Regions from separate parts of the Homo sapiens genome. Here region 2 is linked to region 1. A link means that fine-mapping ties the variant in region 1 to the expression of a gene that starts in the linked region. Tissue or cell type: whole blood. Region 1 holds a variant in brackets; the other region holds the start of a gene. All regions are shown on one strand. Distances are from middle to middle.

Region 1 (2,843 bases):
AAAGGCCTGGGACCCAAGGCAGAGCAGGTGGCGTGCTGTGTCTGTTGGGCAGGGGCGAGGTGGGGAGGACACTGGCAAGGCTCCTTAAGGCCGGGGGGTACGGGGCTCAGGGACTCGGAGAATCAGCATGCAATGACAGCATCGATGTGTCCGGGGCTCAGGGAGAGGGAAGTGGGACCCAGCCTGATCTGAGTGGAGACCCTGAGTGGGGCCAACTCCGTCTTCCCAGTGTGTTTGGGCTTTGGAGACATGCCCAAGGCAGGACAGCTTTGATTCTCACCACAGCCCTGGGGGCCACGACGGCTGTCTCCTCCCTACACCATGGTGAAGACATTCAGACCAACAGAATATAGGAGTTTATCACCAGCAGACAGAAGGAACTTCTAGAAAACAAACTTCAGAAACAATGAGAAGATTTGGCTATCAGTATTTTATTAATATCATAAAATATGTTAAGAGCGCTTACCATCTTTTTCTCTGATCTGGAGTAGTTTAAATAGCATTTGAATGATCTATTATCTAAAGGTAAAGCCTTTAGATAATAACCTTTTTTTTTTTTTTTTGACGGAGTCTCACTCTGTCACCCAGGCTGGAATACAATGGCACCATCTCAGTTCACTGTAGCCTCCGCCTCCCAGGCCCCAAGCAATTCTCCTGCCTCAGCCTCCTGAGTAACTAGGATTACAGGTACCTGCCACCATTCCCGGCTAATTTTTGTATTTTTAGTAGAGACAGGGTTTCGCCATGTTGGCCAGGCTGGTCTTGAACTCCTGACCTCAGGTGATCCGCCCACCTTGGCCTCCAAAAGTGCTGGGATTAAAGGTGTGAGCCATGGTGCCGGTCAATAAACTTTTGAAGCTTTAAAAACATCTAGGCTTGGTGCCTTTTTTGATGCGTCAAAAAATAACCGCAGCAAAGATTTACGTTGTTTTTAGTTTTGGAAGCTCTTTATTAGAAGGCACCGTAGTGGGAAGACAGCAAGTTACAGGCCTGGGAAATGAAGAACCTTACAGAAGAGAGGAAGGAGAAGGCAAAACCAGTGAGCTAGTTCCTTATGCCATATGTGAGTCACCATAGGAAGAGTTTATGAACTTTCACTCATTCTCATGCTGGCCTTTTTTTTTTTTTTTTTTTTCTTTTGGAGACGGAGTCTCGCTCTGTCGCCCAGGCTGGAGTGCAGTGGCGCGATCTCGGCTCACTGCAAGCTCCACCTCCCGGGTTCACGGCATTCTCCTGCCTCAGCCTCCCGAGTAGCTGGGACTACAGGCACCCGCCACCACACCCGGCTAATTTTTTGTAGTTTTAGTAGGGATGGGTTTTCACTGTGTTAGCCAGGATGGTCTCGATGTCCTGACCTCGGGATCC[G/A]CCCGCCTCAGCCTCCCAAAGTGCTGGGATTACAGGCGTGAGACATTGCGCCCAGCCATGCTGGCCATTTTTTATATTTATGTCATTATTTAAAACGATGCTTTTTTTTTTGACAGAGCCTCACTCAGTCACCCAGGCTGGAGTGCAATGGCACCATCTCGGCTCACTGCAACCTCCACCTCCCAGGTTAAAGTGATTCTTGTGCCTCAGCCTCCTGAGTAGCTGGGACTATTGGCACACACCACCATGCCCAGGTAATTTTTAAAATTTTTTTGTAGAGACAGGGTCTTGCTTTGTTACCCAGACTGCTCTAGAACTCCTGGCTTCAAGCAATCCTCCCACCTTGGCCTCCAAAAGTGTTGGAATTACAGGCATGAGTGACCGCACCCAGCCTTCTATACTGCTTCTAATAGAATAAAAGAATTTTTCCAGATTTTGTATTAAATGGAAGCAAACAGTATGTATAATTTCATGTCCATGAGGTTCATCCATGTTACTCATTCGGTTATATGAATGTCTACCCTTTGTTGATTTTTTTTTTAGAGACAGAGTCTCACTCTGTCACCCAGGCTGGGGTGCAGTGGCCATTCACAAGTGTGAGGATAGCTCACTGCAGCCTCAAATTCCCAGGCTCAAGCAATCCTTTGCCTCAGCCTCCCGGGTAGCTGGGACTACAGATACAGGCATGAGCCACCACACCCAGCTAAATTTAAAAAATATTTTTAGAGGTGGGTCTCACTATGTCACCAGGCTGGTCTTGAACTCCTGGCCTCAAGGGATCCTTAGCCTCCCCAGTAGCTGGGATTACAGGCACTAAGAACCATGCCCGGCTATTTATTCATTCTTCTGTTAATGGACATTTGGGTTGTTTCCAGTTTGGGGCTGTTATAAATAGTGCTGTTAAGAACATTCTTGTTCATGTCTTTAGCTGAACATATGTATGCTTTTCTGTTGCTAAGCCAACATGTTCTTGTTCTCTCTTTTTAAACAAAGTTCTATAATGGAAATTTTCAAACATACTCAAAAGTAGATAGAATGGAATAATGAATCCCATTGTACCTGTTACACAGCTTCAGTTTTCTTTTCTTTGTATTTTTTGGTTTTTTTCTGAGACAGGGTCTTGCTCTGTCGTCCAGCCTGGAGTGCAATGCATGATCCTAGAACACTGCAGTCTCCAACTCCTCCTGCCTCAACCTCCTGAGTAGCTGGGACTGCAGGTGCATGCCACCATGCCTGGCTGATTTTTAAATTTTTTGTAGAGATGGGGATCTCGCAATGTTGCCCAGGCTGGTCTCCAGCTCCTAGCCTCAAGCAATCCTCCTGCCTCGGCCTCCCAAAGTGCTGTGATTACATGCACGAGTCACCATGCCCAGCCAATATCATCATTATTATTACTAACAATAAGACTATTAAATGTGTTTAAGATTTCATTATGTTAATTTAAAAATTTTTAAATAGATATCCTACTAGGGATGTGA
Region 2 (2,500 bases), 41 kb after region 1:
GGCCAGGAGTTCGAGACCAGCCTGGCCAACATGGCGAAACCCCATCTGTACTAAAAATACAAAAAAAATTAGCCGAGTGTGGTGGCCTGCGCCTGTAATCCTAGCTACTTGGGAGGCTGAGGCAGGACAATCGCTTGAACCTAGGAGTTGGAGGCTGCAGTGAGCCGAGATTGTGTCATTGCACTCCAGCCTGGGCAACAAGAGTGAAACTCCATCTCAAAAAAACAAACAAACAAAAAAACCCGACCGAGCACCACCTCCGTTCTGCATATTAAAATAGCAACAGCTGCCACCTGCTGAGCACCTATTGTGTGCTCAGGACTTTCATGCATAAACACACGTAACCTTCCCAAGGACCCTAGGAGGCCGGTACTCACTATCACCTCCATCATGTGGAGGAGAAAGCTGAGGCTCAGAGAGGCTGAGTAACTGAGGTCACACAGCTGGGAAGTGGTGGAGCCCAGATTTGTCACCATTGCGCTAGGCCACCTCTGGGCCCTGGACTGCACTCCCAAATGTCCCACTGGGCCCTGGACCTGCTACAGCCAAGGCAGAAACCAAGGTGGTCTTCATCAAGGTGGTCTTCATCTTTCCTGAAACCTGCTCCTTCCGCAGTGTTCCCTGAATGGCCCCATCATCCCTGGGAGTCACTCCTGGGCGTCATCCCTCGGCTTCTCCCAAGGCCCTTAGGCCTCCCTGTGGTCCCTGTCCCACTCCTGCCTCCCTGAGTTTCATCTGGACCTCAGCTCAGGTCTTGTGGCTTCTCAAGGGCCTCCCCAGCCCAGGCCTCCCTGACCCACCTGGCTCTAGGCAGCTGGAAGTGTCCTCACTGGGCCTCCCTCACCTGCTTGTCCTGAGAGACGGTCGACAGCAGCTTGAGCAGCCCCGTTCTGGTTCCTGGAGCCTGGAGCCGCACGTCCTGCCCTGGTCGCACCGACGGGGTCCTAACCAACTGTTGGTAGGTATTTAGCATATCGGTGTCCTGCCCCATCCTGCCCCATCCCCCATCCGCACCGTAGAACTGCCTAACAGGCCATCTCTATGGCAACCAGTCCTCAGCCAGTCTCAATGGGTCTGGCAAAAAGCATGCTAGGAAGGGGTCAGTGGGGTATGTGAGGCCAATCTCCTTCTGGGAGAGAGTTCAGCAGGATGCCCAGGAGTCATTTAGCGCAGAGACCCAGGCCCAAGTCCTGCCTCTGCCTCATCCACAGGCTCCCCGTGTGACCTGGTGTAAGTCCCCTGTCCCTACTCTGCCTGTGTTTCCCCATCCATCTGTACAGGGGAGTCAGCCTGTCTCCTGTGCTGCCCCCCGGCCTGGCCGAGTCCCTGAAGGAGCCAAACTGAACTTTCACAAGATTTTATTTAAATCCTTGCACTCCCAGGCTGGGAGTGGTGGCTCACACCTGTAATCCCAGCACTTTGGGGGGCTGAGGCAGGTGGATCACTGGAGGTCAAGAGTTCAAGACCAGCCTGGCCAAAATGGCAAAACCCCATCTCTACCAAAAATGCAAAAAAGATTAGCCAGGCCTGGTGGCGCATGCCTGTAATCCCAGCTACTCAGGCTGAGGCACGAGAATCACTTGAACCCGGGAGGCAGAGGCTGCATCGACCCCAGATTGCACCACTGCACTCCAGCCAGGGCGACAGAGTGAGACTCTGTCTCAATAAAAAAGAAACAAATAAACAAATCTTTGCACTCCCAGCCCCAGCCAGGAAGTTGAATGCTGTGTCCAGGAGAGAGGCAGCAGGCCATTCAGAGCCTGGGCCCAGGCCCACCTGGCCATCTTCATAGGCCATGAGGTTCTGGAGGGAGTTACAACATTGAAAGCTTACCCCAGGCCGGGCAGTGGCTGTAATTCCAGCACTTTGGGAGGCCGAGGTGGGCGGATTGCCTGAGGTCAGGAGTTGGAGACCAGCCTGGCCAACATGGTGAAACCCCATCTCCCACCTGGATTGAAACTCTATCTCTACTAAAAATACAAAAATTAGCCGGGCATGGTGGTGGGCACCTGTAATCCCAGCTACTCGGGAGGCTGAGGCTCTCCCTCTCCGGGTTCTCTTGAACCCGGGAGGTGGAGGTTGCAGTGAGCCGAGGCCACACCAGTGTACTCCAGCCTGGGCGAAAGAGTGAGACTCCATCTCAAAAAAATATATTTTTTTAATATAAAAAAAGTAAAAGATCTTACCCCAAACTTCTAGCAGTGCTCAAAAGCCTTGGAATCTTAAGTCCCCATGGGACGCCTGGTGCTGACCACTGAGGCTTGCAGTACAGGGATGTGGTGCTGAGCTGAGGCCCTGGAGACGGACCAACTGGGCTGGAGGCCTGGTCTCACTAGCTCTGTGACCAACTCCCCACTCTGCAAAACTGGAATCACGGGCCCAGCTCATAGGTTTGTTGCAAGGACTACATGAAACCCCAAACGATGACATCGGTAAATGTTATTATTACTAACACTAGCTGGCCGTTCTTTTGAGGCAGCAGAGCATCATGGCTAAGAGC

Evidence for each region. PIP is the estimated chance that this variant, and not a neighbour inherited with it, causes the effect. A credible set is the group of variants that fine-mapping cannot tell apart.
Region 2: TSGA10IP starts here. The variant in region 1 is the best candidate, but not a certain one, in a credible set for the expression of TSGA10IP in whole blood (INTERVAL, PIP 0.82).

The regions. Positions count from the first base shown.
Region 1 is chr11:65,984,792-65,987,634 of GRCh38, reverse strand. No RefSeq gene overlaps it. Among named protein-coding and RNA genes, the nearest start is that of EIF1AD, 16 kb to the left of the region's middle. The variant G/A (reference allele first, on the strand shown) is at 1,366.
Region 2 is chr11:65,944,167-65,946,666 of GRCh38, reverse strand. It overlaps TSGA10IP (testis specific 10 interacting protein), which reads right to left and starts at 1,187. Exons shown (of 8, transcript NM_152762.3): 1 at 845-1,187. The coding sequence starts at 991. It overlaps LOC105369350 (a long non-coding RNA gene), which reads left to right and starts at 1,143. Exons shown (of 3, transcript XR_950212.3): 1 at 1,143-1,230.